Linked DNA regions of Homo sapiens: regions 1, 2 and 4 are each linked to region 3. Evidence: fine-mapped expression QTL. A gene starts in region 3. Each other region holds a variant in brackets. All regions are shown on one strand. Distances are between the middles of the regions. Region 1 overlaps FATE1 (fetal and adult testis expressed 1). Region 2 overlaps CD99L2 (CD99 molecule like 2). Region 3 holds the start of PRRG3 (proline rich and Gla domain 3). Region 4 has its middle 80 kb from the start of MIR4330.

Evidence for each region.
Region 1: its variant is fine-mapped to the expression of PRRG3 in minor salivary gland (GTEx, PIP 0.93).
Region 2: its variant is fine-mapped to the expression of PRRG3 in hypothalamus (GTEx, PIP 0.93).
Region 4: its variant is fine-mapped to the expression of PRRG3 in cerebellum (GTEx, PIP above 0.99).

What each region holds. Positions count from the first base shown.
Region 1 is chrX:151,720,517-151,728,420 of GRCh38, reverse strand. It overlaps FATE1 (fetal and adult testis expressed 1), which reads right to left. Exons shown (of 5, transcript NM_033085.3): 3 at 6,920-7,026; 4 at 6,440-6,518; 5 at 5,227-5,793. The coding sequence ends at 5,662. Among named protein-coding and RNA genes, the nearest start is that of FATE1, 8.4 kb to the right of the region's middle. The variant C/T (reference allele first, on the strand shown) is at 3,851.
Region 2 is chrX:150,796,806-150,804,709 of GRCh38, reverse strand. The region is part of intron 4 of CD99L2 (CD99 molecule like 2); the gene reads left to right. Among named protein-coding and RNA genes, the nearest start is that of CD99L2, 98 kb to the left of the region's middle. The variant C/T (reference allele first, on the strand shown) is at 2,953.
Region 3 is chrX:151,689,985-151,697,888 of GRCh38, reverse strand. It overlaps PRRG3 (proline rich and Gla domain 3), which reads right to left and starts at 2,431. Exons shown (of 4, transcript NM_001372163.1): 1 at 2,345-2,431.
Region 4 is chrX:151,084,625-151,092,528 of GRCh38, reverse strand. No RefSeq gene overlaps it. Among named protein-coding and RNA genes, the nearest start is that of MIR4330, 80 kb to the left of the region's middle. The variant G/A (reference allele first, on the strand shown) is at 4,083.

The sequences.
Region 1 (7,904 bases), 31 kb before region 3:
ATTCCAAACTCTGCACTCCGGCTTTCAAACTCCTTCAGGTTGTCACTAGACCCATGTATGCAGCCTCATCTCCTGTGGGGCCATTTTGTGTTGGAGCTTAGTGGGGGTGTGGCCAGGGCTGGTCTTGGCAGTTTTGTGGCCACCATGACACCTGCAGATCAACCAGGTACATATTCTGTCTGCCACATGCATGTGTCCAGTCCAAGCACTAGTGTCCCTCCCTCTGGAGAAGGTGGTCACTGATGAGTGGTACTAAGGAGCAGTTGGAGGGGGCCCAGCTATGCAGAAAGAGGGGCCCAGGGACCCAGCTACTGGCAGGATGTCTAGAGATGAGGCTGCTCCAATACTAGCTGCCTCCTATGGCCACAGTCTCACATGGACGGAGCTTACACTTGCCACTCTGGGCTCAAGCTGAGATGGATGCAAGCTCAGCTGGGGAGCCCAAACGGGGTACCAGGCCTGAAGCAGCCCTGGAAGCCTATCTCTGCCCCAGGCCTGCTGCCTGGCTCCAGAATCTTCCCTCAGCCAGAAGCTCCAAGGGCTTCACCCCACATGCATTTCCCCAAATGGCAGAGTGGCTGGCTCCCAAGCCTGAGAGGCCTGAAGTGGGTGATCCCCTCTAAGGATCTCCGAAAGAGGTCAGGGTACAGTTCAAAGAGCCAAAAGCAAAGGCTGCAATCCCAGCATGGCTCCTGGGAGAAGCCCACATAACCCACACCCCTACCTCCACTGCTACTCATATGCAGAGAGCCACAGGCTCCAAGTGAACACTGCCCGTGCTCTGAAGCTGAGGGGCCCAGAAATGCTCGGAGTCAGACAGGCAGTGAAGGCCTATGGGTTCCCCCCTTCCTCCCACTGAAGCTTGCCTGTCGGGCAGGCCCTCCGTCCCTCTGCTCCAAATCTGCTCCAGCAACCCTCCCTGCCACCCTCCTGGGAAAGGACAAAGTCCCAGCTGCTTCAGGACAAGCTTTGTGTGGCACTCAGGGCCTCCACCCTCCTAGAGCCCCAAATAATTTCTTTGGCTGCTTTAACAGGGGACAAAGTTTCCCAACACAGCCACTTTCCTCAGCTCCCTCGGCAGATGACACATATGAAGACCCATGTCAAGCCAGGTTCTAGGGCCCACGCACTTTTCACGGACTCCAGTTCTGTACCCCCATGGAGGTAACTGGCCTGTGGTCACAGAAAGGTATCAGCCCAAGGTCAGCCGCTTTCCTCACCAATCAGATGGCTTCAGAGGCAGGGGCTCTCCTGGCCAGTCAGCATCCGTTGGTCCTTCTGCACAACCTCCAGTCAGAGACAAACCACTGGGGGCTCATCGGCATCTGGAGCTAACAGAGATCTCCTGCCATTCCTGCCCCTCAGGCCAGCGGGGCCCTTGAGCCCCTGACAACTTAGCTGCAGCCTCGGGGTCAGAGAGCTGCCCCACCCTGCCTGAGGCCAACAGGAGAAGCTGGCAGAGGCCAAGAAGAGCTCATGCTCATGGCTAAGGCAAACTCAAGACGCTGCCCCAGGGTGTCACCTGCCCAATGGAGAAGCTGGCCTGTCTGTGGGCACTGTACACCCCAGGCTGTTGGCAGGCGAGGGCTGGGTGCTGGGCTGCCTGGCTGTAGAAGCTGCTTGCCTGCCCAGATCCAGAAGCCAGCCCCTCCCAAGCTCCCTGAGGAGCCCTGCCTTGCACGGAGCATGCTCAGAGCTATGTGTCTGGGGATTCAACCCCACCAGCTCACAGCCCTGGTGTACTTGCCTCCAGACCTTGGCACAATCTCAACCAGTCCACCTGATCTGAGGTCAAGCCAGGGAGAAATCTGAGAGAAGAGGTACCTGGGGTAGGGCTGGCCTGAGGGGAAAATCCATACCTTCTCTGCCAGGTCCCCTGGACTTGGCCTCCAAGAAGGGTTGGGGTTAGGGAAGGGAAACAAGGCAAGACCCTTGGGGCAGTGAGCTTTGGGCTCCTTTCCAAGAAGCCAGGATTTCAGGCTGCTCCTGGGTACACCAGAGTCCCCTCCATGCACCCTCATGTACCCCTCCTCACATGCCCACCTTCCTCTTCCCACCTTCCACCAGCTGCCAGGAAGCCAGCCTGTGACAAAAGAACTGGAATATTGAGTTTCAGCTTTTGACCAGGACTGGCGGGGGACCAGGGGCCCACTTGGCAGGGCAGAGAACTACATAAATGGAGGATTAAAGCTTTGCCCACCTGCGCAGCCAGCTGGGAAGACAAGCCACTCCCTCAGGGGGCTGCTAGGAGGGGCTTAAATGACATCCTGCGTGCAAAGCCTGGGATACATACAGGTGCGCATAATCTGCATGGAACAGCATAGAGAGTTCGCAAGGATACGCACCAACCAAACCATGGGAAATAATTCAGTGGAGGGACTTGGCATTTGGGGTGCAAGGGACTGTGTTAGCTAGGCCTGCAATGTTTGCCTTTTTGGGGAGAATGTGTTCATGCACAACTTGCGTAATTAAATATTTTTAAGATGCAAAGTGCATGGCACAGAGTAGGTGTGCCGTAGGAAGCGAAGAATAGAATTGGCTCCCTTTGGTGGGGAAAGGTTTTCAACAGAAGGCATACCCTAAAGGCCAGGAGGGGAAGACCAGGGCTAGATTCAATCTCTGGGGACCCTAATCAGAGGCCATCCTGCCAGTCCTTTACTTGTTCCAGGAGTGCAGAAGACAATGCAGGCTACCTTGTGCCCTCAAGAAGCTACTGATCCAGTGGAGGACTGATGTGTACCCCTCTAATACTAAGCCTGGGCAGCCCCTGGGAAGCTTCAAAGACTAGAGAAAAACAGCACGCCAGGAGAATCCCCTCCCCCACCCCCAAGTAAGAATGAGTTCCTTCCCTCCTTCATTCACCCACAGCATCCTGCTTCACCATGGGGAAGTTCATGGCTTGCTGGAGGAAGGGCTGGGCTCAGGGTGGAGAGGTTGGGCAAGGCAAGGACAGTTTGGCAGAGAAATGCAATCAGATGGGCAAATGCTCTAGGTGGGTCAGAGCCAGAGGGCCAGGCAGGAGGTGCCAACTTGCCTCCTGGCACTCTGCCCCCGAGCCTCCCTGGATCTCCCAGAGGCTTGGGAATCACAGATGTGCCAGCCCCCACAATATGGTCCCCATGCCCCTTAAGGAACATTGCAGAGGGGCCCAGACTGGGCAGCTCTGACTCCAGTTCCTCTCAGGAGCTTCCTGAGGTCTTCTAGGTGGGGCAGGGAGTTCTAGAGATAGAGCAGGAATGCCCTTCTAGGAACTGGCCTCCAGCCCTGCTGGGAACCAGCCAAATGGTCACACAGAAAGGCAGGGTGGAGGCCCAGCCACGGGCTCCTTATGAGCCCACCTGGCTCAGGAGACGTTCCTCTAGGGCACTGCCGTGCTGTTTGTTTGCAACTCAACTAAATTGCTCCCAAGGGTGAACCTTTGTTTCACAACATATTTTCAGCCAGACTTTTTCTGCAAACATGTCCATGTCTGTGCAGGCTCACAAACACTCAGGTCCCAAAGGGCAGACCCAGCCCTTCCCAGCTGCAGCCTCCTCTTCCTCTGAGCTTCCCTGTGGGGCCTGACTGGGGCCGGAGAAAGGGGCAGCCCGGGGTAGACAGTGTGAAGGCTGGACTCATGGCAGTTGGAGCACTGGGCTGATGGCAAGAAGCTGCACGTGCTGCCCCTGCTCCATCTCCCTGCTTCCCTTAATATTCCTCTGTATCTTGGGTCCTGCTCTGTCCTGAAGCTGCAGGAAGGGGAGGGGCGGCCTGCAAGGAGGTCCCCCAGTCTTCCATCTAGCCCATGGGTGACTCCTGGGGCCCCAGGCCCCATTTGCAGAGGACAGGGAACACCCCTGGTACTCCCTGG[C/T]CCTCTTGGCTCTCCTGGCCAGAAGTACTCATATCTGGGTGCTGCTGTTTCCCCATTCTGCAGAGGGGCTTCCTGTGGCACTTGATTACCTCTGTGCTCTGGGACCAGAGAGAGAATCTTTCTCTCTGGTGTTTCTTTCCTAGGTGTCCTTTTCTCTGCTTTGAGCAGGGCCCAGGCTCCAGGGGCCACGTGCCTCGTGTCCCACAGGGCTGACAGGAGGCCCTGCATCCTCATCTTAGAAGTATTGCAAGCCCTAGAGTGTCAGGCGTGGAAGAACCCCCTCATTGTATAGGAGCCCACTGAGGACCAGAGAGAAAGAGGTGGAGCAGGGACAGAGCAGGCTCTGGGACTCAAGCTTCTCTCTCTCTCTCTCTCTACTCTAACTTCCCTCCCTCTGCCGCTCTGTATCGCTGACTGTATCTCTCTCTCTGCCTCTCCCTTCCTCCATCCTTTCTTCTCTCCTCGCCTCCCCTCCTCTCCCTGTCTCTTCTCTGTCTCTCTCTCTCACATACACAGACACACACGTTCATTTCATACCTAGGGACTAACACGCTTCCCAGTCTTTACAGATGGAGAATCCTTGACAGATTTGGGGGATTAGGGAAGGTGCACTTAGCAACTAAAGCCAATGAGAAAGTTCTGGGTCAGAGACATGTGTGTTGAGCCCTTGGTCCCAGGGAAAGGGGTTGCAGCTCCTCTGCAGGCCTCCTGCACCAGGCACATCTGCACTGTGGTCAGGCCCCCACATGGCAGGCAACATTCTCCACCTCTCAGGCTCAGCCCCACTGGACAGCCCAGCTATTCACCCTGTCTGAGGTGTGCTTCATGGGCTGTGGACCCAGAGTGTGTGGTGGGTAGGGTGAGGGGTATGTGTAGCTCCCGTTCAGCCTCCAGAGCTGAGGCAGGACCTCATCTCCAGTGAGTCTGTCTGCAGGAGGCAGGCCAAGCCCTAGCGTAGGACTCAGGAGAACTCACGCCAGAGAACTCACATCCAGGCCCTGTCTCACTGGATGACCCAGGGACATGTTTCCTCTCTCTGGAATTCAATTTCCTCTTGCGCAAATGAGGTTTCTGGTCCCTTTCAGGAGATTTCCTCTGATTGCTTCCCTGCAACACAGCGCAGACATGCTCCCAGAACCACACCCCCACAAGCACTGGTTTGCATGAGCCCAACAGGAAGAACTTTGCAAAGCTGGGGCTGGGGACAGGGAGGTGGGGGAGGTGAAAGGGAGGAGGGAACCAGGGCCCCTGGGGCAATGGCAGAGGCTCAGTCCCAGCCACAAGGTCTCTGTGAAGAGGAGCTGTTGTTTCCCAGCGCACCCCACCTCCACTGTTGCCCCCAGTGAGTGCTGGACACAGGAACCTCAGCCACAGGGTTTTGCTGCTATGGCTGAACTTTTATTGAGCGTGTTGTCTGTGCAGAGCGCTGTGCACGAGGTGGAAGCAAACGAGGGAGGAAAACAAAGCCACACCCCTGCCCACAGAGGATGGAACAGAAGGGCCGCTGAGGTCAGGAAGGCAAGGTTGCCACTAGGTGTTACTGTGGGGCCCAGATGCCGCCATGCTGTTCACCCTTCAAAGGGTGGCATCTCAGCCCACGCAGTCCTCCTCCAGCTTCGCAGCAGCCAGGACCTCCCAGTGCAGTGACCTGGCCTCCCCAGGTAGGAGGCCTAACCAGAGTTGAAAATGATCCTGACGCTCCTGAGGGCTGCTGGGAGATGAAAGGGGCAAGGGCAGTGGCGGCCTGGGGAAAGAGGAAAGAAAGAAGGGGAAGCAGGGAGGGCTCCAATACGGAGGCCGCGCTGGGGCGATCACTGGTTCATCCACAGCCACAGGTTGGCAATGCTGGCCGACACCAGCACGGCGATGATCAGGGTCTCCCTGTGGCGCCAGGTGGCGCCCTGTTCCTCCAGGGCGCGCAGACGCCGGTTGACTGCATACAGCTGCAGAGGAGTCAAAGGCAGGGCTGCTGAGCGAGGCTCTTCTCCAGAAGCCCACAGCACAGCCATGGGAAAAGCATAAAGTTAGAGCAAGAAGGGGCTTGATTGCCCTTTGGCGGTGGAGCGGGGAGCGCCCCTAGTGAGAAGCAGGAGGCTGGGCCAGGTCCGCGGGACCAAAGACCTGGCTGCTACGTCTGCAGGCCCCACTTTTGCCTTCTCCCTTATGTTCACTTCCCTTCTCTGGAAGAGACCAGCCCATTCCAGCTGCGCCGGGGAGCCAAGGAAGAAAGGATCTCCTCCTAAGAAGGTCTGGGTTTGGTTTGAACAAAGGCGACCCCTCTCTCAGACCCTTAGGTATCACTCTCTCTCTGGACATAGAACCCTTATCCTTGTATGTTCCCTCTTCCTCCACCTTTTATCTGCCCCTATTCCCTACCAGCATCTCAGGGACAGCAGTGAGTTTGAGGCTGGACATCTATGCGGGGTGTCAGAGCCATGGGGATGAGGAGGAAGAGGAAGGGAATCTGCCCCACCTCCAGCGCTAAAGGGAAAGATGACTGTAAGGGACTACAGGACCCCAGCTGTCGAGCCCTGCCTATTCCAAGGCACTGTGATTCTGCTTGCACCCACCGATTGGGTCCCTCCTCACCTGTCTTCTCATGACTTCCATCTCCAGTACATTGAACTCTTCCAGGCTAGTCTGCGCCACTGCATCTGTCCCTGGGTTGCTGGGAGAGAAAAAAGACAGATGGTCAAAGCTGCTGGTGGTCCCTGGCAGGGAGCACAAGAAGGCAGTGAGGTCAAGCAGGTAAGGTCGTGATCTTCTTGGACAGTGACTCTATCAGCCTCCAGTCCTCTTCCATGGTAAAGAGGGCCTAGGGCCTTGAGGGCTGGGAGTCAGCCTGAGCTAGCCTGAGCCAGCCTGGCCCAGCCCAGTCCAGCCCAACTCGGCTAGGCCGCAGAGCACTGGGATGCCCCAAATGGGCAGGGAGCCAGGGTACTCATGGTCTCTGACAGGGAGGCATTCCAGGCCCTCATGACTCCATCCTGGCCAGGCTGCTCACCAGCCCCTCTGCCCCACTCCGGGCCCTGTCTGAGCAGCCAGGGCCCACAGACCCTCAGCTCTTACCGATCATAATGGAAACGTATGCCTTGGAAATTGCCAGCGTACTCCTGGAGATGGGCATCCCCATGGCCTGATTCTCTCAGCATTCTGGGCTTTGGCAGCTGGGACCCCTGAAGAAAGGAATGGTCAGTAAAGTAGCCTGCCCAACCCCACATGAGTGGCTTCTCCAGTTTGCCCAGAGCCAATGGTGCACCCCATGGGGAATCACATGGTGCCTGGTCTCTGGAATCAAGGGCTGGCAGCTTCAGGCCGCTAGGAAAGCTTGGGAACCCCACACAGGCTGCTGGCCACCACCCCACCCACACCATGCTCCTCGGTAGCTCTTGGTCATCCAGGCAGGCTGTGGCAAAAGAGGAGCAGTAACAGGGGTCCCTGTCCTCTGCAAGAACTTTCACATGCAGGTATTAGCTGAGAGGCTGAGCAACCTACTGAAGGAGAACGTAAAACCTTGATTGGCAGCCCAGGCCATGGAGGCCTGGCGAGATGCCTTTACTTTCCAAGGATGCGTGGTAAATGTCAGGGCTAAGGCTAGAACCCTGGCTACTGGGAAACCAGCAACTCCTCTGGGTAAGCTCAGCCAGCCATCCCTGTGGCTTTCATTTTTATCCATCTGCCAACAACTCCCTAGCATGTACATCTCTGGCCCAGAGCCCTTGGGCCAGGGCCATCTGATGCCTTTGAAGCATCAGTGGGGGATAGAGGAAAAGAGCGTGGCTTTTGGTGCCAGACCTGCCTGGGCTCAAATCATAGTTCTAGGTTTCCAGTTCAAGATGAAATGTTTCACAAGCTGCTTATTTAACACACACCACATGCCAGGGACCATGCCATCCTCTAAGCCCTTACCAATACTAAGTGACTGATTCCTCGTCACAGCCCTGTGAAACGGTATCATTATCATCCCGTTTTGAAAGTAGGGGAAACTGAAACACAGAGAGGTTAATTACCTTGTCCAAGTCACACAGCTAGGAAGTAGCAGAGCAGTAATTTG
Region 2 (7,904 bases), 890 kb after region 3:
TTTCTTTGTCAATCTTGCTAAAGGTTTGTCAATTTTGTTGATCTTTTCAAAAACCATCTTTTGTTTTTATAGACTTTATTGTTCTTCTGTTACTTATTTCATCTGTTTCTACTAGAGATGGGGTTTCACCATGTTGGCCAGGCTGGTCTCTTGGCCAGGCTGTTCTCGAACTCCTGACCTCGTGATCTGCCCACCATGGTCTCCCAAAGTGCTGGGATTATAGGCATGAGCCACCGTGCCTGGAGAGATCTTTGTTTTTTGTTTAGGTTGGCATTTATTGCTATAAAGTTCTCTCTCAGGACTGCTTTTGCTGCATCTCATAAGTTTTGGTATGTTGTGTTTCTATTTTTATTTGTCTCAAAAATTTTTTTGATTTCCCTTTTGATTTCTTCTTTGACCCGTTGGTTGTTCAGGAGAATGTTGTTCAATTTCCACACATTTGTGAATTTTCCAATTCTCTGTTCAAACTTCTAGTTTTGTACCATTGTGGGTGGAAAAGACACTTGATATGATTTCAATCTTGTTAAATTTATTAAGACCTTTTCTGTGACCTAACATGTGACCTATCCTGGAGAATGTTCCATGTGTGCTTGAAAAGAATGTGAATTCTGCTGCTGTTGGATAGAATGTTTTGTGTATGTCTGTTAGGTCCATTTGGTCTAGAGTGTTGTCCTGGCCCGCTGTTTCCTTATTGATTTTTCTGTCTGGATGACTTGTCCATTGTTGAAAATGGAATATTTTCATCTTCTTAAACAGGTCTTTTACAGAGGAAATGTTTTAATTTTCACAAGGTGGATGTATCAATTTTTCTTTTTATGAAACGTGGCTTTGTTGTCAATTGTGTGAACTCTTTACCAAGCTCTCAGTCCCAAAGATTTTTTTTATGTTTTCTTTTGAAGTTTCATAACTTTATATTTAAGTAAAGATGATCATCCATTTTGAGCTCATTTTTAATAAGGTGTGAGGATTAGGTTGAGATTCATTGTTTTTACCTATTGATGCCCAATTACTCCAGCACCGTTTGTTCAAAAGACTATGCTTTATCAAATTGCTTTTGTACCTTTATCAAGAATCACTTGAGTGTATTTGGGGTCTTTTTGGGCTCTTCATTCTGTTTGATTGATCTGTCTGTCTGTCCCTCTGCCACAGTCCTGATTACTATAACTATAAATTCAGCTTTAATATTGGTTAGAGTGATTTGTTCCACTTTATTCTGCTTTGTCAAGTTCTTTTAAGGTTCTTCTAGGGCCTGTGCCTTTTCATATAATTTTAGATTAAGTTTGTCTTTGCCTAGTCTAGAAAAAAACTTACTGGGATTATGATAGGATGTGTATTAAACATAGATCCATTTTGGGACAGTTGACATTTTTACTTTGTGGAGTCTTCTAATCCATGAATACGGTATGTCTCTCAATTGATTTATGTCTTCTTTGATGTCTTTTCTTGAGAACACTGTAAATTTTGGTATAGAGGATCCGGTACATGTTTAAATGTATGTTTAAATATTTTCTTTTCTAGCCGGGCATGGTGGCTCACGCCCGTAATCCCAGCACTTTGGGAGGCCGAGGCGGGCAGATCACGAGGTCAGGAGTTCGAGACCAGCCTGACCAACATGGTGAAACTCTGTCTTTAATAAAAATACAAAAATTAGCGGGGTGTAGTGGCACGCATCTGTAATCCCAGTTACTCAGGAGGCTGAGGCAGGAGAATTGCTTGAACCCGGGAGGTGGAGTTTGCAGTGAGCTGAGATCTCGCTATTGCACTCCAGCCTGGGCGACAAAGTGAGACTCTGTCTCAGAAAAAAAAAAAAAAAAAAAAAAAAAAAAAAAGGCTGGGCACGGTGGCTCCCGCCTGTAATCCCAGCACTTTGGGAGGCCAAGGCGGGCAGATCACGAGGTCAGGAGATCGACACCATCCTGGCTAACACGGTGAAACCCCGTCTCTACTAAAAATACAAAAAATTAGCTGGGCGTGGTGGCAGGTGCCTGTAGTCCCAGCGACTCAGGAGGCTGAGGCAGGAGAATGGCGTGAACCTGGGAGGCAGAGCTTGCAGTGAGCCAAGATCACGCCACTGCACTCCAGCCTGGGCGACAGAGCGAGACTCTGTCTCAAAAAAAAAAAAAAAATTGTCTTTTCTTTTTTTTGAGCCTGAGTCTCGCTCTGCTGCCCAGACTGGAGTGCAGTGGTGTGATCTTGGCTCACTGCAGCCTCCACCTCCCTGACTCAAGCAAGATTCTCCCACCTCAGCCTCCCAAGTAGCTGGGACTACAGGCACATACCACCATACCTGGCTAACTTTTGTATTTTTAGTAAAGATGGGATTTCACCATGTTGCCCAGGCTGGTCTCAAACTCCTGAGCTCAGGTGATCTGCCCACTTTGGCCTCTCAAAGTGCTGGCATTATAGGCGTGAGCCACCGTCCCATCCTAAATATTTTCTTTGGAGCAATTGTGAATGGCTAATTTTGGGTTTGATATGTTCACTGCTATGATATGTGATCAATATTGTTGAACTTGTATCCTGAGACCTTGCTGAACTCACTTATTCTAGAAATTTTTTGTAGATTTCTTGGAATTTTCTATGTACATGATCATGTCATCTGCAAATAGAAACATATATAGTTCTTCCTTTCCAATCTGTATATATTTTTTCATATTGCAATGCTAGACATTTCAGTACCATATTAAATAAGAGTGGTAAGAGTGATGTCCTTGGTGTTTCAGACCTTAAAGAAAGAGCATTCAGTCTTTCACCATTAAGTCTGACGATAGCTATAGGTGTTTTCTAGATGTTCTTTATGAAGTTGAGATAGTTCCCCTTTATTTCTAATTTGCTGAAAGTATTTTTTTTCCATAAATGAGTGTTAGATTTTTTCATGTCCATTGATATGTGATTTGTCTTCTTTGGCCTGTTGACAGGGTAGATTACGTTGATTTTCAAGTATTGATCCAA[C/T]TTGCCTGACTGGAATAAATTCCATTTTTCATGCTGTTTAATTCTCTTTATACATTCTATTCTGTTTGCTAATATTTTGTTGAAGATTTGGCATGTAAATTGATGAGAGACATTAGTCTATATGTTTTTTTTTTCTTTAATAAGGTCTTGATCTGGTTTGGCTCTGTGTCCCCATCCAAATCTCATCTCGAATTGTAATCCCCAGGCATCTAGGGAGGGACCTGGTGGAAGGTGATTGGATCATAGGGATGGTTCCCCATGCTGTTCTCACGATAGTGAGTGAGTTCTCACAAGAGCTGATGATTTTTAAAGTGTTTGGCAGTTCCCGCTTTGCTCCTCTCTCTCTCCTGCCACCTTGTGAAGTGAAGAAGATGCCAATCTCCCTTTTGCCTTCCACTATGATCGTAAGTTTTTTGAGGCCTCCCCAGCCATGAGGAACTGTAAGTCAATTAAACCTCTTTTCTTTATAAATTACCCTGTCTCAGGCAGTATCTTTATATCAGTGTGAAAACGAACTAATACAGGTCTTTATCTGTGTTTGTTACCAGGGTAATACTGGCCTTACAAAATGAGTGGGGAAGTATTTCCTCTTGTCTCCTTTCTGGAAGAGATTGTATACAATTGGTGATAATTCCTTTTTAAATGTTTGGTAGAACTCTCCAGGTAAATCACCAAGTCCTGGAGGTTGAGGTTTTGTTTTTTTGGGGTTTTTTTGTTTTTTTTTTTGAGACGAAGTTTCACTTTTGTTGCCCAAGCTGGAGTGCAATGGCGTGGTCTCGGCTCACTGTAACCTCCGCCTCCCAGGTTCAAGCAAATCTCCTGTCTCAGCCTCCCGAGTAGCCGGGATTATAGGCATGCACCACCACACCCGGCTTATTTTATATTTTTAGTAGAGACAGGGTTTCTCCATGCTGGTCAGGCTGATCTCGAACTCCTGACTCAGGTGATCCACCCACCTCGGCCTCCCAAAGTGCTGGGATTACAGGTGTGGGCCACTGCACCCAGCTGAGTTTTTTATTATTGTGGTAAGTATACATATAAAATCTACTGTTTTAACCATTTTTAACTGTATTATTCAGTGGTACTTAGTAGACATTTGTCCCTCCTTTAGTATTTGCTGGGCATTGGTTCTGGGACCCCCTGCAAATACCAAAATCCTTTGATGTTCAATTCTCTGATATGAAATGGCATAGTATTTGCATGTAACCTACACATATCCTCCCATATAGCTTAAATCATTTCCAGATTACTTATAATACCTAATACAATATAATGCTATGTAAATAGTTATTATACTGTATTTTAAAAATTTATATTATTTTTATAGTTGTATTATTTTTTGTTTTTTGTTCTTTGAATATTTTGATCCATGGTTGGTCAAACACATGATTCTGGATGTGGAACCTATGGATATGGAGGATCATCGGTATTCACAATGTTATGCAGCTGTTACCATGATCATTTCCAACAGTTTTTCATCAGCCCAGCTAGAAACCCTATACCCCTACAACAGTAACTCCTCATTTCTCCTTACTCCTAGCCCCTGGTAACCTCTGCTATACTTTCTGTCTCTAAGAATTTGCCCATTCTAGGTACCTCTTATAAGCAGAATTGCACAATATTTGTTCTTTTGTGTCTGGTTTATTTCACTTAATGTAATGTTTTCCAGGTTTATCCATGTTGCAGCATGTACCAGAGTTTCTTTCTTTTAAGCCTGAATAATATTGCATTATATGTATATACCATATTTTGCTTATCCATTTATATGTTGATGGCCATTTGTGTTGTTTCCACCTTTTGGCTGTTGTGCATAATGCTGTTAGGAGCATTGGTGTACAGATTTCTGTTAGAGTCTCTGCTTTCAATTCATATGGGTATGGACCTAGAAGTGGAATTGCTGGATCATATGGTAACTCTGTTTCACATTTTGAGGAAGTACCAAACTGTTTTCCACAGCAGCTGCACCATTTTACATTCCCACCAGCAATATACCAGGGTTCCAATTTCTTCATGTCCTCACCAATACCTGTAATTTTTCATTTTTCTTTTAATAATAGCCATCCCAATGGGTGCAAACTGGTATCTCATTGCAGTTTTTATTTGCATATCCCTAATGACTAGTGACACTGAGCAGCTTTTCATGTGCTTATTGGTCATTTGTATATCTTCTTTGAAGATATGTCTATTCAAGTCCTTTGCCCATTTTAAAACCACTTTTTTGGTTTTTTTCCTTTTTTTTTTTTTGAGACAGGGTCTTGCTTTGTCACCCAGTCTGGAGTGCAGTGGTATGATCTCAGCTTACTGCAACCTCCATCTCCGGGCTCAAGCAGTCCTCCTACTTCAGCCTCCTGAGGAGGTGGGACTACAGGTGTGCCACCACACCTGTCTAATTTTTGTGTTTTGTTGTTGTTTTTTTTTTTTTGGTAGAGACAGGGTTTCACCATGTTGTCCAGGCTGGTCTTGAACTTCTGGACTCAAGTAATCCACCTGCCTCAGCCTCCCAAAGTTCTGGGATTACAAGCATGAGCCACTGTGCCTAGCCTTAAAATCAGGGTTTTTGTTGTTGTTGACTTGTATAAGTTCTTTATATAGTATGGATATTAATCCCTTATTGGATGTAAGATTTGTAAATATTTTCTCCCATTCTTGTGAGTTATCTTTTTACTCTCTTGATATTGTCCTTTGATGCACAAAAGTTTTTAATTTTAGGCTGAGCATGGTGCACATGCCTATAATCCCAGCACTTTGGGATGCCAAGGCAAGTGGATGGCTTAAGTCCAGGAGTTTGAGACCAGCTTTGCCAACATGGGGCAACCCTGTCTGTACAAAAAATGCAAAAATTAGCTGGGCATGGTGGTGCACGCCTGTAGTCCCAGCTACTCAGAAGGCTAAGATAAGAGGATCACTTGAGTCTGGAAGGCGGAGGTTGCACTGAGTGGCATGATTGTGCCACTGCACTCCAGCCAGCCTGGGTGACAGAGTGAGACCCTGTCTCAAAAAAAGTTTTAAATTTTGATGAAGATCAATTTATTTATTTTGTTTTTGTTGTTGATGTTGCCTGTGCTTTTGTATCATATCCAGGAAATCATCATCAAATCCAGTATCATGAAACTTTTTCATAATATTTTCTCCTGAGAGTTTTATAGTTTTAGCTTTTATATTTAGGTCTTTGAACTATTTCTTTTTTTCATGCCACCATGTCTAAGAATCTTCTATCTATTTTGAGTTAATTTTTGTATGTAGTATAGGTCAGGGTCCGAAGTCATTCCTTTGCATGTGGCTATCCAATTTTCCCAGCACCATTTGTTGAAAAGACTGTCCTTTCCCCGATCGAATGGTCTTGACATACTGTTGAGAATCTAGTGACCGTATATGCAAGGGTTTATATCTGGGCTTGCTTTCTTCCTTCCTTCCTCCTTTCCTTTCCCTTTTCCTTTCCTTTCTCCCCTTTCCCTTCCTTCCCTTCTTCCCTCCCTTTGTTCTCCCACCCTCCCTCCCTCCCTCCCTCCCTTCCTTCCTTCCTTCCTTCCTTCCTTCCTTCCTTCCTTTCCTCCCTCCCTCCCTCCCTCCCTCCCTTCCTTCCTTCCTTCCTTTCCTCCCTCCCTCCCTCCCTTCCTTCCTTCCTTTCCTCCCTCCCTCCCTCCCTTCCTGTGTTCTGTCCTCCTTCTCCTCCTTCTTCTCCTTCTCCTTCTTCTCCTTCTTCTTCTTCTTTTTTTTTGACGGGGTCTCATTCTGTCGCCTATGCTGGAGTACAGTGGTGTGGTCACGGCTCACTGCAGCCTCCACCTGGGCTCAAGCAATCTTTCTATCTCAGCCTCTCAAGTAGCTGGAACCACAGGTGCACGCCACCACACCTGGCTAATTTTTTGTATTTTTTGTAGAGATGGGATTTCACAATGTTGCCAGGCTGGCCTTGAACTCCTGGGCTCAAGCAGTCCACCTGCCTCAGCCTCCCAAAGTGTTGAGATAACAGGCGTGAGCCACTGCACCCGGCCTATTTCTGGGCTTCCTATTATATTTCATTGGTTTGTATGTCTGTTCTTGATGTCAGTACCACACGTGTTGTGATATTTGTAGTTTTGTAGTAAGTTTTAAAATCAGGAAGTGTGACTCTTCTATGTTCTTTTTCTAGATTGTTTTGGCTGTTTGAGATTCCTTGAAATTCCATGTGAATTTTAGGATGAATTTGTCTATTTCTGCAACAAATGTCATTGGGATTTTGGTAGGGATTCCATTGAATCTGTAGATTGCTTTAGATAGTATGCATTGCCATTTTAACAATTTAGTGTCTTCTAATCCATGAACACAGGATTAGGTTGTATTTTGATAGTTGGTGGTTTTTGAGAAATTGGTCCATTTCTTCCAAGTTGTCAAATATGTGAGCTAAAAAATGTTCATATTATTCCATTATTATTCTTTTAATGGTTACAAGATCTACAGTGTCCCATTTCAGTCCTTTTATTGGCATATCATCTTTTTTAACTTTTATGTTTGTTAGTAAGGCTAGCGGTTTATCCCTTTTTACTGTATAAATAAACTTTTGGTTTTATTGATTTTTTTTTAGTATTGCATTCTTATTTTCAGTTTCATGGATCTCTGCTCTTGTGTTTATTTTTTCCATCTGCTTGCTTTGGTTTTGTTTTTCTAGTATCTAGCTAGCTTCTTTTTCTAGCATCTTGAATTAGTAACTTAGATTATTGATTTGAGGCTCTTCTTCATGTCTAACTTATGCATTGAGTGCTATAAACTTCTCTCTGCACTGCTTTAGATCCCACATATTTTGCTATGTTGTGTTTTCATTTTCACACAGTTCTATGTATTTTTTAAAATTTCCTTTGAAACTTTTTCTTTGACCCTTGTTTTATTTAGAAATATGTTGTTTAATATCCAAATGTTTAGAGATTTTCTTGTTTTCTGTTGTTTCTTCTCTGTTTCTAATTTGAATTAAGTAT
Region 3 (7,904 bases):
AGGAGCTATCCAGCCAGTACTTAAACCATGGTCACAGCACACTGCTCCCTCTGTCCCTCCCCACAATACACACGCCCACTCATACACACATTCTAGAGCCCTTGCTGAGCTGTCCACATCTGGGAGCAATCACCCCACTGCTCCCCTCCCCAAGCAGAAGCTCTGGTTTGATGACTAACTGGATGCAAGACACGTGAACTGTGGAATCCATTGAGCCCTCCTTTTTGCCTAGGCTGCCAGGAAGTTCAGCGTCACTATTGCCAGTCAAGCACAGGCACCCTGGAAGCCCAGCTGTTAAGCACATATGCTTCTGTCCTGCGATGTGGTATACAGCTTTCTATTTATGTTTCCAGTGTCCTATTGTGCATTTATAATATGCCACCTAATCCTTTTGGCAAACAGGTAGGATATAAATCAATAATTTAGGCTGGTCGCGGTGGCTCATGCCTATAATCCCAACACTTTGGGAGGCTGAGGCGGGCGGATCACCTCAGGTCAGGAGTTTGGGACTGGCTTGACCAAAAAATGGTGAAACCCCATCTCTACTACAAATACAAAAATTAGTTAGGCATGCTGCGGTGCATGCCTGTAGTCCCAGCTACTCTGGAGGCTGAGACAGGGGAATCGCTTGAACCAGAGAGGCGGAGATTGAAGTGAGCTGAGATTGCGCCACTGCACTCCAGCCTGGGTTACAAAGCCAGAAAGAAAGAAAGAGAGAAAGAGAGAAAGAGAGGGAGAGAGGGAGAGAGGGAGGGAGAGAGGGAGGGAGGGAGGAAGGAAGGGAGGGAGGGAGGAAGGAAGGAAGGAAGGAGAAGGGAAGGGAAGGAGGAAGGAAAGAAGGAGAAGGGAAGGGGAGGGAGGAAGGAAGGAAGAAAGAAAGAAAGAGAGAAAGAAAGAGAGAAAGAGAGAAAAGAAAGAAAAGAAAATTAAAGGTAAAACAGCAGATCTGACATCTATTTGTGGAAACGCCACATCAAGGGGCTTTCTCTTTTGAACCCTGCAACAATCTCCCTCAAAACTATCAACATGTGAATTTGTCAACAGATGGCCTGCCTTGTGAGACAGTTGGCCCTCAATGTTTGTCAGAACCAAGATGGAATATGATCTCAAAATTCTGCTTGCATTATGGATACCTGAGCTTTATGTGGTGAGGGTGTGGATATAGTATGCCTCATGGCAAGGATTTTTTGCTTGAAGAAAAATGGAGCTGTTGTATCTGGGTTTGAGAAGAATGCATATAGTCTTAATAAGGGAAGAGAGAAAAATATGCTTATCAAAGGAAACTGCAGTGGTTTTTTAAAAAAATGGAGAAAAATTTACATAATAGATTACATATATCCATCTTTTGTCCCCCACACACCTAGCCTTGGTCAAAGGTGGCTATATGTCACACCTATCATAGACCCGAATACATGTTATCCTGACGCACCTGCTAAAGTCACCAGTTCATTTTTAAGCTTCAGTCGAGCCAGGAACACCCCCAAAACAGTTCCCATGGCATGGCCCACTCCATTAGCAATTCTGTAGCCACCTTCACTGCTGCTGCTGCCTGCCACGAGGCCTCTTCCCCCTCCCTCCCCAAAATGTAGCGCCTGCTTCTTCCCCTATAAATACACCATCAGTAGACAGTTACTATGGCAACAATAAGGAAGCAATCGTGAGGGCTCCACGACAAAGAATGATGCTGCAGCCACACATGTATATGTCCCCCATGCCCCTGGTGGATACTGTAAAGCTGACTGTAGGCGGAAGGAATTTTTAACCCACTCCCCGCAGGAACACAGCTGAATCCTGACAGCCTGGAAAGGAAGGAAGGCAGGGAACTGGCCACCACAAAGACCTTGCTTAACTCCACCCCAGACTGAAGCTTCTGAATCTCAGGCCTCTGGGACACAACTCCCAAAGTCCCTCACATGAAGCCTGGTGACCACCAGAGCACCTGGTGTCCCAAGACATGGCCTCCAAACCACTTCTCCAAACCCTAGACTTTATTTCCATCCCTCAGAACTGATCGCCAGGAAAGGGTTCTCCAAATCGCATGACTCATCGACCCACCCAGTGACACGACAACTCCCAAATTATGCTCAAACTCAAACTCTGGGGCCCCCTTGTCCCTTTCCACTCAGGCCAGCCCTGAAAGTGCCTGTCCTCGCCCACCTTCGCTGGACACCAGCGCCCTGACCCAGCAACACTCTTCTCCCGGAGCTGTTCAATACGCCCCATCCCCTTGGCCCGGACAGGCCTCTAGATCTTCCCTCCTCAACAATGCCCTGCACCCAGCTCGTTGGCCCTGGATACCGAACCGTGCCCTCGGGACTGGGACACCCAACCCAAATGGCCTCACCGTTCTCCGGGCCCAGAAGGCGGCCGCCCTGTTTGCGCACGCAGCCCGCCACCTCGCTGCTGCGCCTCTTCCAGCAGGGGCCCTGTCCCCGCCCACCTGCTCCCCGTCGGCCAAGCCCCCCGGTCCGGCCCAGCCGTCTCCTCCCTCCCTTCCTCCCCTCCCCGCTGCCCTCCCACCGCCCCGGGCACCCTGTCGCCCGCCCCTCCAGGGCCGAAGTGCGCCTGGAACCCCCGCCCCTCGCAGCCGGGCGCCCAGGCCCGGCCCATTACCTCGGCACCCCCCTGCCTGCCCCTGCTTTCCTCTGGGGGCTCCGCAGCTGCCCGCCCCCCACACCCCGCCGTTCCAGGGCTGGCCTCGCGCCCCGCGCCTCGCGCGCCACGACCGCAGTGCCCCGATCGCCAGGCCGCAATCGTCGCGCTGCCCCGCGCACCGGGCCGCCGGCCGCCTGGCCGAGTGGAGGAAGGAGGGGTGGGGGCGACGGAGTGGGCCGAGGGGGTTGGGAGAGCGGGCGGGCAAGCCGGGCCGGAGGGGCGGCGGCGCGCACCGAGCACCGCGCGCCCGCGCCCCACTCTGCCGGCGCCGCCCCTGCCCCCGCCCGTGCCGCCGGGGGGCGGGGCCTGACTGGCGGGCCTGGGGCACACAGAGGACCCTTGGTCAAAGCCCTGGTCCAGTCGTGACCCAAGGCGTGGGCCCTCGGAAGATACGGCGTAGCAGGGAGCTCCGGCGGCCGCTCCCAAGGCCCGCGCGCCAGGCGTCCCTGCGCAGCCCAACCCGCGTCCTGTCCCCACCCCCCGGGCTCACCTGCCATTCAGGCCCGCCGGGCTCCTGGGGCCAACGAAAAGAGAGGGGGGCTAGCCTGCAACCTAGGCCTGCCTTGCCAGGGATCCACAGGGCCCTCAGAAGAAGGACCGAGTCGAGGCCGCGTTCCGCCAATGACTGGGTGACCTTGGCTTCTTCACTTACCTACCCCCACCCTGCCCCGGGAAGGCAGGCTTCTCTCCTGCAAAGTCCGAGAAATGGGGAGAATTCTGCCTCCCTCGCGAGGCTGCAGCGATTTGAAGGAGGAAATGGGTTTGGAAAACTCTAAGGCTCAGTAAGGGGAGAAGGAATCTTCTGCGACTGCAAGGAGCGCTAGATGGGGGCTCCTTCGGAGGCCGCACTGTGAGAAGTTCAGCATGGCAGGACAAGACGCATAGCAGAGATTACACTAGTCCAGGAGGAACCACATGACAGGTCCACTGCTAAGAGAGGGGCAAAGGGGTTCCGGGTGGGCTGAGGTTCTGGGTCTAGGAAAGCCTCCCTCGGAGAAGGGGATGCTGGGTTTTTAGGGTTCCTTTTTGTTCTCTGCACATCTAGAACCCGGCCAGGCACTGGGGTTGGCGTCCTCTTCCTCCCTCCACCCCAAGTGTTGCTTTTGATGGGAATGAGTCTCAGAAGGCGGTTCCAGAACCACTCCCACCCCTATCCCAGGGCGGGTATTAGCAACCTGCCTTGCCAGGGGGCGGAAGAGGGGTGGGCGAAGGCCTTCATTGCCACCGGCCGCCTCCCCTCCAACCCCCAGGGCCTGGCTCCCCTAGCTCCCCCGATGCCTGCCTCTACACTTCTCTCCCCGCATGGTGCTTTCCCTTCCATTTCTGCCTCCTGTTAGAGTTCTTCCCTAGCTTGCTTGCTATTTCACGGCTGCAGGAATCTTCCTTACCCACGACAGCTCTTCTATGGCCTTCCCCCCATGCCTCCGGAGCCTGTGGGGCAGAATTCCACAGACTCTTCTGGAACTAACCTCTTGAGTTTCCTAGCCCACCAGCATGTTCCCATCGTGATCTTAACACCGCATAGACCCTTGTGCACTTGACTGTTAAAAAAGCAGCTCTTCCAGTATGTGCACAAGGGTCTATGGCTTCTGCCCTCCTTCTGGCACTCCCACTTTAGCTTCTGGCTCCAGCCACATGAGGCTACTTCTACTTCCCACTGCCCAGAATGCCTTTCCTCCCACTGTGGACCTGGAGCACTTGCATTCATTCTTCCCACACAGTGCGCATGACATCTCTACTGTGAGGTCTTGCAGGATCCTTCCTGCACCCCAGTCCGCCATTCCACTCTCAGGACTATCTGCAGAGACTATGAACATGGGGGCCTCGGTGGATAGCAAGGTGGGGGAGGAGGAATAGCAGTGCCTCTGGAGCGTAGTGCCTGCTGCACCTCTTGGTGGTACTACATAGTAGGCTCTATTATCTCCAGCAAGTGTTTGACCTCTCTGCATCTCGGTTTCCTTACCTTTCAGATGAGAATGATGCTAACAGTGCCTGCCTCAAAGCGTTGCTAAGCGGGTAGTGGAGCTAATCACATAGAATGTGCCTGGCGCTTAAGTGTGAGCTTAATGCACATCAGCTGGCCTGCATCCAGCTACCTTGTGTTCATTTGGTAGCTCACTTACGTGCACACTTGCCTCCTCTCTTGGGGCCAGGGACCTTGTCTCTTCCTGTGTCCCTACCATCTCGCACAGAACCTCATCCACAGCTGGTGCTCTCTAGAGACTTGTCAAGCTGAGGCTGGAGGGGCTGGGGCTGAGAAGGCCTCCATTGCCTTCTTACCTGCCCCCATTTCTGTTCCGGCAGAGCCGGAATTGTGGGTGTATGACCCATGGAGTCAGACAGGGCCCTGTGCTTAAGAGGGCTCTGGACACCTGGCTCAAGGCTGTGCTATCACCATCTTGAAATTCTAATGCTTTTTGAACAAGAGGCCTTCATTTTCACTTTCACTGGGTCCCACGAAGTATGTAAGCCATCGTGCCTATGGGTGGCATTTCCAATATCCCCGATCCTATCCCAGGTAACAGAATTCTCAGTCACCCACCACTTGTGATTCCTCACCTTCTCCCCTCTGCAAGCCTTGACCAGTTGCCTCTTTCCTCATGTCTCATCACCACCAATTCCATTACCTTCCTCCACATTGCCCCTCCCCAGCCCCATCCCTGTGCCTCACCCTTTGGCTAAGAGGAGCACTCTCTGACAACCTCATTTACTCCCAGAGTTTCACTCTTTCCCCAACACTCATCCATTCCAGAATTGAATGGATAACTTTATCTGAGCTCTGCTGCTCCCATCCTTTTATGTCCTGACTGAGCCTAAGCATTGATCCTTACCCTGTAAGAGACTCATTCCATCTCTGCAAACCGATCAACAAGTTAATCAGGTGTCATGGATTGAGTTGTGTCCCTCTGCAAATTCATGTTGAAGTCCTAATCCCCAGTACTCCAGAATGTGATCATACTTCGAAATAGGGCCTTTAAAGAGGTTATTAAGGTAAAATAGGGTTATTAGGCTGGGCCCTAATCTAGTGTGACTAGAGTCCTTATAAGAAGAGGAAATTAGGACACAGGCATGTACAGAGGAATGACTATGTGGAGACACAGGGAGAGTGTGGCCATCCACAAGCCACCAAGAGAGGTTCAGGAGAAACTGACCCTGCCCACACCTTGATCTCAGACTTCCAGCCTCCAGAACTGGAAGACAATACATTTCTATTGTTCAAGCCACCCAGTCCACAGTACCTACTTTGTTAAGACAGACTGAAACAACTCCTACATCAAGCATTTACTCAGTGATACTACGTGCTATCCACTGTTCTAGGACTTGGGATTACAGAAGCCAAAAAATTAAATAAAAACTCCTAACCTCATGGATATTAGACACAAAAAAAAGAAAAACAAGTCAAAGATACAGGATGCTAGATGGTGATTGGTGCCATGAAGAAAAAGTGAAGCAGAGATTTCAAATAAGGTAGTCAGGAAATGTGCCACTGAGAAGATGGCATTTGAACCAAGATTTGAAAGAGTTGAGGGGCCATCCTATTCCAGGTTGGGAAATTCACAAGTGCGAGAGCCCTGGGAGCAGAAGCTTAGCATGTTCTAGGGTTAGGCAGGAGGCTAGTGTGCTGAAGTGAAGCAAGCCAGAGAGGAGGATGGTAGGCGACTAGGTCAGAGTAGTTAAGATGGGGGTAGCAAGAGATCATGCAGGGCCTTGTAGACCACTGTCAGGACTTTGGCTACTAGTCAGAGTCATGTGGAGAGACAGTGAGGATTCTGAGTCAGTGGTTACCACGATCTGATTTCTATTTTACAACAGGCAATGCAGTGGAGGTGGTAAGAAGCAAGCAGATTCAAGATTGATTTTGATGGAAGAGTCATTAGGGTTTGATGCCAGTTTGGAGTTGAGCTAGGACAGAGACAGAAATCAATTATGGCACTAAGGTTCTCAGTCAAGGGAACAGGAAGGATGGAGGCCCTTTAACTGAGATAAGAAAAACAGTGATGGAATGGGTTGTATAGACGTGTGTGAAGTTCAGGGGCAATATCAAGGCTGGAGATATAATCACAGAATGAGTAACATTTCGTTCATATTACAAGTCATGAGACTGGATTGGATCCACAGGATAATGAATGTAGAGATAGCAAACCAGCCCCAGAACGAAGCCCCAGGCAATCCTACATTTAGACGAGGAAAAGCCAGCAAGGGAGCCAGTAAGGAGTGATGTTGAGGCAGGAGGGGTGCAGCAACACGTAGAGACAACTGCAGAAAGTGTATCAGGAAAGAGGCGGTGAGCAGCTATTCCAATCCTACGGACTGGACAAATAAGAAGAGGACAAAGAATTGAGCATTATGTCTGTCAATGTGGAGGTCATGAATGTCTTTACAGGGGCCATTTCCAGGAAAATGTGGAGGGACAAGAGTAGGAAAAAAGGAATTGAAAACAGCGAGTACCCAATGATTGACAAGTATTGTAAGGAGTTTTGTTGTGAAGGAGAACAGAGAAGCTGGGGTTGGGGGTGGTAGGGATATGAGAGGACAAGATAGAAGTATTTTTAAAATATGAGATAAATTCCAGCCCTGTAACATGTTTGTATGCTAATGAGCCAGTAACGTGGGAAAAATTGGTGATGCAGGAGGGAGAGACACAGATGTAGGTAGGTGGGAGAGGCGATGGCAGAGCTTGGAAAAGTGCTCTTCTGATGGCTTCTATTTTCCCAGTGACACAGAAAGCCAAGCCACCAGTTGGGAGTTGGGGTGAGGGATGTCAGTGGTTTGAGGAGAGAAGGCTTGAAATAGTCGTCTTCTGGGAGCCAAGAGAGTGGATGTTCTGTGGAACTGTAGCGTGATTTCTGGGCTGCATGGAGGGCCCACTTGAGGGTTGATGGTCATTATTTTAAAGTGAAACTACTCAACATATGTGCATGGCTTTCTCCAACCATATTCAATTGTTCTTGTGGATATTTAGAGTAGGTAGAGTTGGATTTCATCAGGGTTGGGGTTTTGCCAGATGAGTACAGGGATATAATGGAGGGACACAGTAGTTTTATGTGGATTCAAGGGAGAAATGATAATGATTGACCATGGATTTTAGGCTGGGTAAGGAGGGAGATAAGGACAGAATCAGGGTTTGGTGAAGGAGAGTGAAATCAACAGTAGAATCTTTGGTTTGAGGGTCCCCACAGGGGTCAGAGGACTGTCATAATACTAAAAGGAGTGAGCCGGTGGTTGGAGAGCTGGATACATGAAATGGA
Region 4 (7,904 bases), 610 kb after region 3:
TTACTCTATTGGTTTGGGGGTTTCTCACACTTCAATTTATTATCCTCTTATCAGCAGCTCCAGCTACTGGGCCTTCATTATATATTAATTGCCAGTGCCAATTGTCATTATTTTTTATATTAAAAATCCATCTATAAACACACTTCAGCAGCTCCACCACCTCACCATCATTGCTCATTTAATCTCCCTCCTCCTCTATTAGAGCAGCAGGGGGCTAACCAGAGCAGGAGACACTGGGGCTAATCAGATCACTAGTTTGTCTGAACATTAAGCTCAACAGGAACTCAGTAGGATGTACTAGGTCAGGTAAGGGCAGATTCAATCTTCCACCAGCTCTGAGGACCAACAGCGGAGGGACCTGGAATCAGAGACAATTAAAGGATGAACCCCAGCTTGAAGGGGCTGATGGTAAAGACTGGGTGACTGTTAGGTGGGGTGGCTATAACTGAGGGCTCTGTGAAGGCATGATTTGATGAGAAGAATTTCCTGGCTTATGCAACACTACTCATCATCTGACCTGTTCACTCACCATTTCTCAGAACTCCTAATGCAGGGAGCAGTGGTAGAAAATGTGTTGGCCAGCAAGTTAGGAGACCAGGGACTTGTCTGAACTCTATTCCTAAGTGTGATTCTTGGAAAACTCCATAACCTCTCAGGGTATCACATTCTTCAACTGGGGGCAATAATCCCTACCTTGCTGACACCTCAGAGTTTTGATAAGGGCCAAATGAAAAAAAAAAAAAAACTTCAGTGAGTATGTATTACTTGTTAAGCACTACTTTAAGGGAGTATTGTTCTTTGCACTTTGCATGCATTAACTCCTTTAATTTCCTCAGTAGTCCTATAAGGTAGGTACTATCATGGTCTCATTGCACTGATGGGGACATTGAGGCACAGAGGAGGCAAACAATTCTCTCAAGCTCACTTGTGTATGTGGCTGTTTCACATACACATGAACAGCACAGTGGTGTTCAGCCACTGCACTGTTCAACCACCCCTAGTCTATAAAATCAAACTCTAGTCTGGCTTTCTTAACTGGAGTCTTTCTCTACCTTCTCATTCTGAGCCCTGGCTTTCACCCGCGTATCTTGGGAGCCCCTCACCTAAGAGTAGGAGAAGGGTAAGCATTCTCCTCATTCTATAGTGCTTTGCTCAGGCCACTGTTCTGCCACCTGCATGTAAAACCCCCTAATTTTTAGCCACTCAGTCTATCTAGTTGGTTCCACCACTCTATTTCCCTCCTGGTTGCCATCATCTAATGACCTCCTAGTCATGGCGCCTCAGTCACTGGAGATTTAGTTTACTGTCTTCCTCCTACTCCAAAGCTGGACTATCCTTTTGGGTGACTTTGGTGTCCAAGAGGAACCTAGCCATAACTGTACCAGTCATAGTTCAGTCAGGAAAGCAGAGCCACTGTGGGGATTCTGGGAAATCCGACTTTGCAAAAGGGTGGGAAGAGCTGGGAAGTGAAGGTCCAGAAGAGAGCATTGAAAGATCAGATCAAGAGTTACTAATGACTCCCCCTAAAGCACTGGTGTGGTGGACAAGTCAGGGCTTGCAGGAAAACATGGAAAGTTAAGCACGTTTAGCTGTTTAAGTCAATGACAAAGAGGAGTTGTGGGACAGTCTATGAGAAACTGCTGCCTCTATGTGGCTATCACTTCTGTGGACCCACAACCAAGGGCCTAGTAATGAGCCTAAGGCCACTGTTGAGGAGACCTGAATTTGGAAGAGAGGAAAGCAAAGAAACACTGGAGCCCTCTTCATACCCCTGCATCTGCCTGTCACCATATATGGCCATGAAGACTTTCAAGGAGTAGTGGGCCCTGCTTCATGTGCCAGCCATCTCATTTCAGTAAACTTCCCTCCCCACTCCTAATCTACCCCTTCCATAGTCATGACCCAAATGTACTGATCCTCTGAAATTCCTCATGTAGTCATCACATTTTCTGACCACAGCCCCTTACCTTTACCTATCTCACCTCTTAAGTTGCTCTCATTAAGGTCACCAATAGTCTCTTTGTCATTAATTCATTCAACAAACATTTGTTTAACTCCCACTCTGTGCCAGGCACTGTATTGGATGCTGGAATACAATGGTAAGGAAAGACAGATCAGAACCCCTTCTCAGCTGGGCACAGTGGCACACACCTATAGTCCCAGCACTTTGGGAGGCCAAGGTGGGAAGATCGCTTGAAGCCAGGAGTTTGAGACCAGCCTAGGCAACATAGGGAGACCTTGTCTCTACAAAAAATTTAAAAGTTAGCCGGGTTTGGTGATACACGCTTGTAGTTCCAGCTACTTGAGAGACTGAGTGGGAGGCTTGCTTGAGGCCAGAAGCTCAGGGCTACAGTGAGCTATGATCATGCCACTGCACTCCAGCCTGGTGACAGAGACAGACCCTGTCTCTGAAGAAAAATAAAAAGAACCTGTTATAATAGACTTCTAGTCTGATGGGAAAGATAGATATCAATTATATTATCCCATGAATAAATGGAGAATTGCAACTGAGAAAAGTGCTCCGAAGGAGAGATAAGTACATGGTGCTATTAAGGAGTAGGATGGGAGAATCTGTCTGAATCAGGGAGGTCAGGAAAGGCTTTCCTTAGAAAGTTATGATTGCACTGAACATCAAGAATGAGGAGAAGGGCGGGGCACCGTGACTCACGCCTGTTATCCCAGCACTTTGGGAGGCCGAGGCAGGTTGATTACCTGAAGTCAGGAGTTCGAGACTAGCCTGGCCAAAATGGTGAAACCTCGTCTCTACTAATAATACAAAAATTAGCTGTATGTGGTGGCACATGCCTGTAATCCCAGCTACTCGGGAGGCTGAGGCAGGAGAATCGCTTGAACCCGGGAAGTGAAGGTTGCAGTGAGCCGAGATTGCACCACTGCACTCCAGCCTGGGGAAAAAGAGCGAAACTCCGTCTCAAAGAAAAAAAAGGGGGGGAGAAGTTAACTAGGCAAAGATGAGAAGGAAAGCATTTCAAACAAAGGGAACAATGTCTGCAAAAGCCCTATAGCAAGATCAAACAGGATTGGATTTATTGGTAAACTAGAAGAGGGCCAACACAGAAGTGCAAGGTGAGAAGTATGGCTGGAGGTATACACAGGAGCCAGAGCTAGATGCCAACATGCCAGAGCTAGATGCCACACAAAAGATTTCTGCCTGATTCCTAAGAACTGTGGGAAGTCATAGAGAATTTTAAGCAGTAATTTGAAATCATCTGATTCACATTTTCAAAAGATCACTTTGGCTGTAGCATGGGGAGTTCTTGGAGCATGCTACAGTGGAAAGGGAGAGGTCAATTAGGAGGCTACTGTTGTTGAGGCCAGAGATAATGGTGGCTAGACTTGGGGTGGTTATAGTGGATATTGAGAGAAATTGGTGAACTTGAAATACACTATTTTGGAAGTAAAATTGTCAGAATTAGGTGATGAATTCGATATGGTGGAGATGGAGACAGCAAGAATGACACTTGGATTTCTGGCTCTGCAATTGGATGAATGTGGTACTATTCATTGATATAGGGAACACTGAAGGAATATAAGGAGAAAGAGTAGGGAGGAAGATCATGAGTTTGATTTTGAGCATGTTAAGTTTGAAGGGCTTTTGTGATATCCAAGAGGACATGTGTTCATCAAACCATAAGTTTATGGGTCTGGAGCTCACAGGAGAGGTCTGGGCTGGAGGTATAGGCTTGAAAGTTGTCTATGTACAGGGATGACTGAAGCCATAGATGGCTGAGACTGAAAATTTAGAGTAAACACTAGGAAGAGGAGAAGGTCTTAGGCTGTAACTTAAGAAACTCTTTGTTTAGAGGTTGACTAAAAGAAGACCCTGCAAAGGAGCAGTTGGAGCAATAGAAGACAAACCAGAAGAGTGCTGGGGACTGGAAGTCAAGGACAGAGCGGGTTTCAAAAAGAAGGCATGTGAGCGAAGAAAGATAAGGATCAAAAGTGACCAAGGGATTTGGTGACACAGAGAGCCTTGGAACCTTAACAGAAACTGTTTTAGTGACATGATAGAAAAGGAAGTCAGATCAGAGTGAGGTGAGGAATGTGTGGGAAGTAAGAAAAAG[G/A]AGACAGCAAGTGCAGACAAGATTGTTGGCAGTTTTGATTGGGAAAAAATGACTCATATACATACATATTGATGAAGCTTATACAGAGAAAAGCACAGGGAAGATATGGGCTTGGACATGGAGACCTTAACCATGCTGGGATGAGGGAGTGTGGAGTGAGGCATCAGATTTCAAAAAAGTCGGCATAGAAGTGCACTATGAAAAAAGAGTTTTGGTTTGAGACAGGATGTGGTACCCAGTTGATTGTGTTTGAAATGACACTTTTTTTTTTATTCATGTGTTTATCCAACAAATATTTATTGAGTGCCTACTCTGTGCCAAGCTATTCTAGAACTAAGGATACATCACAGAACAGAACAAGCAAAAGCCTCTCTTCTTACAGAGCTGGTGCTCTGGTTGGAGAAGACAAACGGTAAGTAAGTAAAAGATAGAGTATGCCAGATGATAAGTGCTACGGAGAAACTGGAAAGGGAGCAGGAGCACAGTTTTAAATCGAGTGGGTCAAAGAAGGACTTTCTAAGAAGGTGACATTTGAGCAAAGACTGGCATATGATTAGACAAAGAGTGTTCGAGCCAGAGCGATCAGCAAATGAGATCACATGAGGCAACAGTGTGTCCAGCGTGTTAGAAGGAAACCAAGGAAGCTGGTATGGCTAGAGTGTGGTGAATAAGAGGGAAGTGAAGAGAGATCTGTCACAAAGGAGACAGTGAGCCATATCAGGTAGGCCATTGTAGGAACTTTGATTACGTCGTTGAAGGACTTTCCATAATCTGGCTTATGCTCTGAAAGGACCCTTCTGGTTGCTGGGGTAGGAATAGATGATGGAGTGAGAGATGCAAGGGCAGAAGCAAGGAGACCATTTAGCAGATTAGTAGAGTAACCCAGGCTAGGACTGATGGTGGCTGGTACCAGGGTGGTGGTCATGGAGGTTGTGAGAAGTGGTCAGAATCTGGATATACTGTGAAATTATTAAAGTCAACAAACTGTGTTGGATTGGTCAATGGATTGACAAGTCAATGGGTTGGCTGTAATAAGTGAGGAAAGAGGCAAAGACTTCAAGGTCTGGGGGCTTGATCAAATGGAAGAACAGAGTTGCCATTTACTAAACATACAGCAGTAGCATGTTTGGGAAAAATACCAAGAAAGTGTTTGGCGTGGATCTGTTCTTTGAGACGCTACCAGACAACCCAGTGATGGAGTCAAAGAGGTAGCTGCAGACAGAAGTCTGGAGTTCAGGGGAGACTTCTGGACTGAAGATAGGCATTTGGGACACAGCAGCATTGGGTTGTATTTAAACTCAGGAGATTAGGTGGGATCACATAGAACATAGTAAGGGAAGAGCACAAAGACTGGTTGCTGGAGTCTTTCAAAATTAAGAGGACAAGGTTTACACCCAGAAGAATTGGAAACAGGGATTCAAATAGGTATTTGTATACCAATGCTCATTGCTGCATTATACACAGTAGCCAAAAGATAGAAACAACTCAAGTATATATCAACAGATGAATGAATAAGAAAAATGTGGATATACATACATTATTCAGAAACAAAAGGTCGAGTAACGATCCACACTGCAACATGGATACACATGAAAAACATGATGTTAAGTGAAATAAGCCAGTCACAAATGATCACATATTATTATATGATCCCATTCATATGAGGTCTTCAGAATTGGCAAATCGATAGACATAGAAAGTAGAATGGGAATTAATAAGCACTTTTATCAGAGGGGGGAGGAGATGGAGAGTTATTGCTTAAAGGGTATAGGGTTTCAGTTTAGGATCATGAAAATGTTCTGGAGATGAACAGTGGTAATGGTTGCACAACACTGTGATTGTAATTAATGTCACTGAACTATATATTTAAAATGGTTACAATGGCAAATTTTATGTTTTATATATTTTAGCACAATAAAAAATGTAAAAAAAAAAAAAAGAGGAAAAGTTACAGGCTGATGAGGAGGAGCCAGCAAAGGATACTGAAGAGAAATAATCTGTAAAGTACCAGGAAAAACCAGGAGAGAGGAGTGTTCTGGAAGCCATTGAAGGGTGTTTCAAAGGAAAAAGGAGTGAGCAACCGTATCAAGCGCTGCTCAAAACTCAAGTAAGATGAAGACTGACATTTCACCATTGATGATCCTCATCAAACAAGTTCATTCTAAAATGCTGCTCATCTGCTTGTCATTTCAACGGAAACATGAGCCATCATTTGTTTTTACCCTGAGTTAGTAATCTGAGTCAATTCAATGCTTCCAAAGCCTTCTTCACCCTTTCATATCTACACACTTTTGCGAGGGATTTGGAATTAGCCATAGTGGAAATCTCACCTCTCCCACTGATGAGCCATGTGACCATATAACTTTGGGTAAGCCACTTCTCTGAGCCTGTGAGTTCTTCTCCATGGTAAGTAGGCCCCTCTTTTGCACACTTGCTATGTGGATGGACCTCTCTGAGTGGTCAAAAACTGTGAAGATATTTGCATCTCATGTGAATGCTCAACAAAGGGGAAAAGCCCCTTATAAAACCATCAGATTTCATGAGAACTCACTAACACGAGAACAGCATGGGGGTAACCACCCCCATGATTCATTTACCTCCACCTGGTCCTGCCCCTGACACGTGGGGATTATTACAATTCAAGGTGAGATTTGCATGGGGACACAGAGCCAAACCATATCAGTAGCCATAGGCTCAATGACATTAACCACTAGAATGTGACCACCTTGGTTTGAGGTTTTGTTCTGTCACTTCTGTCTACGATCCTGGGCAAGTTACTTGATTTCTGTAGGCCAAAATTCCCTCATCTATAAAATGAACATTGTAATAAATACCTAGCTCATGGTATCATGGGGATAACTAATAATAGTACAAAATACTTTGTGGTACTTACTCTATGTCAAGCCCTTCGCAGGTATTTGAATCTGTGATCCTCATGACAACTCTATGAAGTTGGGACATTCTATCAATTTGGACACCGAAGTGTGGAATAAGTGGTTCACCCAAGGTCACCCAACCAGTCAGTGGCAGTGATCCAATTCAAATACAGGTAGTCTAACCGTAGAGCCAGAACAGTTAGCCCAACTCTTGGCAGCCTCCACCTGAGAAGGTGTATGCAGCATGCTCAGCAATATGGCTAGTACATATAAAGTGCAGTCAATGCTGTTTGTTGGTATAGTAAGGGTCAAATGACACTGACTGAGTCTGACCTGAGGGCAGAACAAGAGACTGAACACACATCTCAGGTGATTCTGGAGCACTCCAAGGTGGCTGAGAAAATTTGGTAGGGGAATGGGGTGAGTGACTACTTGAGGCATCTGGGTTGATGGGGTCATAGGTCCAAGGTCTCTGATTTGTGGCACAACCCTGGAGGAGTCCTGAGGTTAAGCTTTCTGACATCCTGGAAGAATAAGATATGGCATCAGTAATTAGTTTGTTTTAGAAGAAACATATATATTTCTTGCACATTAATATTTCTGAACTGAAATTCAGACCCATACTCATGAGAGTTGAGAACCTCTGGTCTAGCAAATATAAGGCAAAGATGTTTTTCTCAGCTCCCTCTTCCCCCTCTGAGCCAAGAGCTCTAGGATGCCAAATGGTATGGCTGGGCCCTGTGGTCCCTGAGGCAGATCCAGGACCAAGGGAGATAGCCTCAGGTGGGCTCCTCCAGGAGGCAAGAGCAGAATCCCCTTTACTTGGGAGCTGGACCTGGTACCTTCATACTCCCACCATGAGCTGCTCTGCTGCCCTGGAACCACTGATTTATGCCCTTTCCCTGGCATAAACCCCTGTGTCACTTGCACCCTCTGTTTTCCCAAT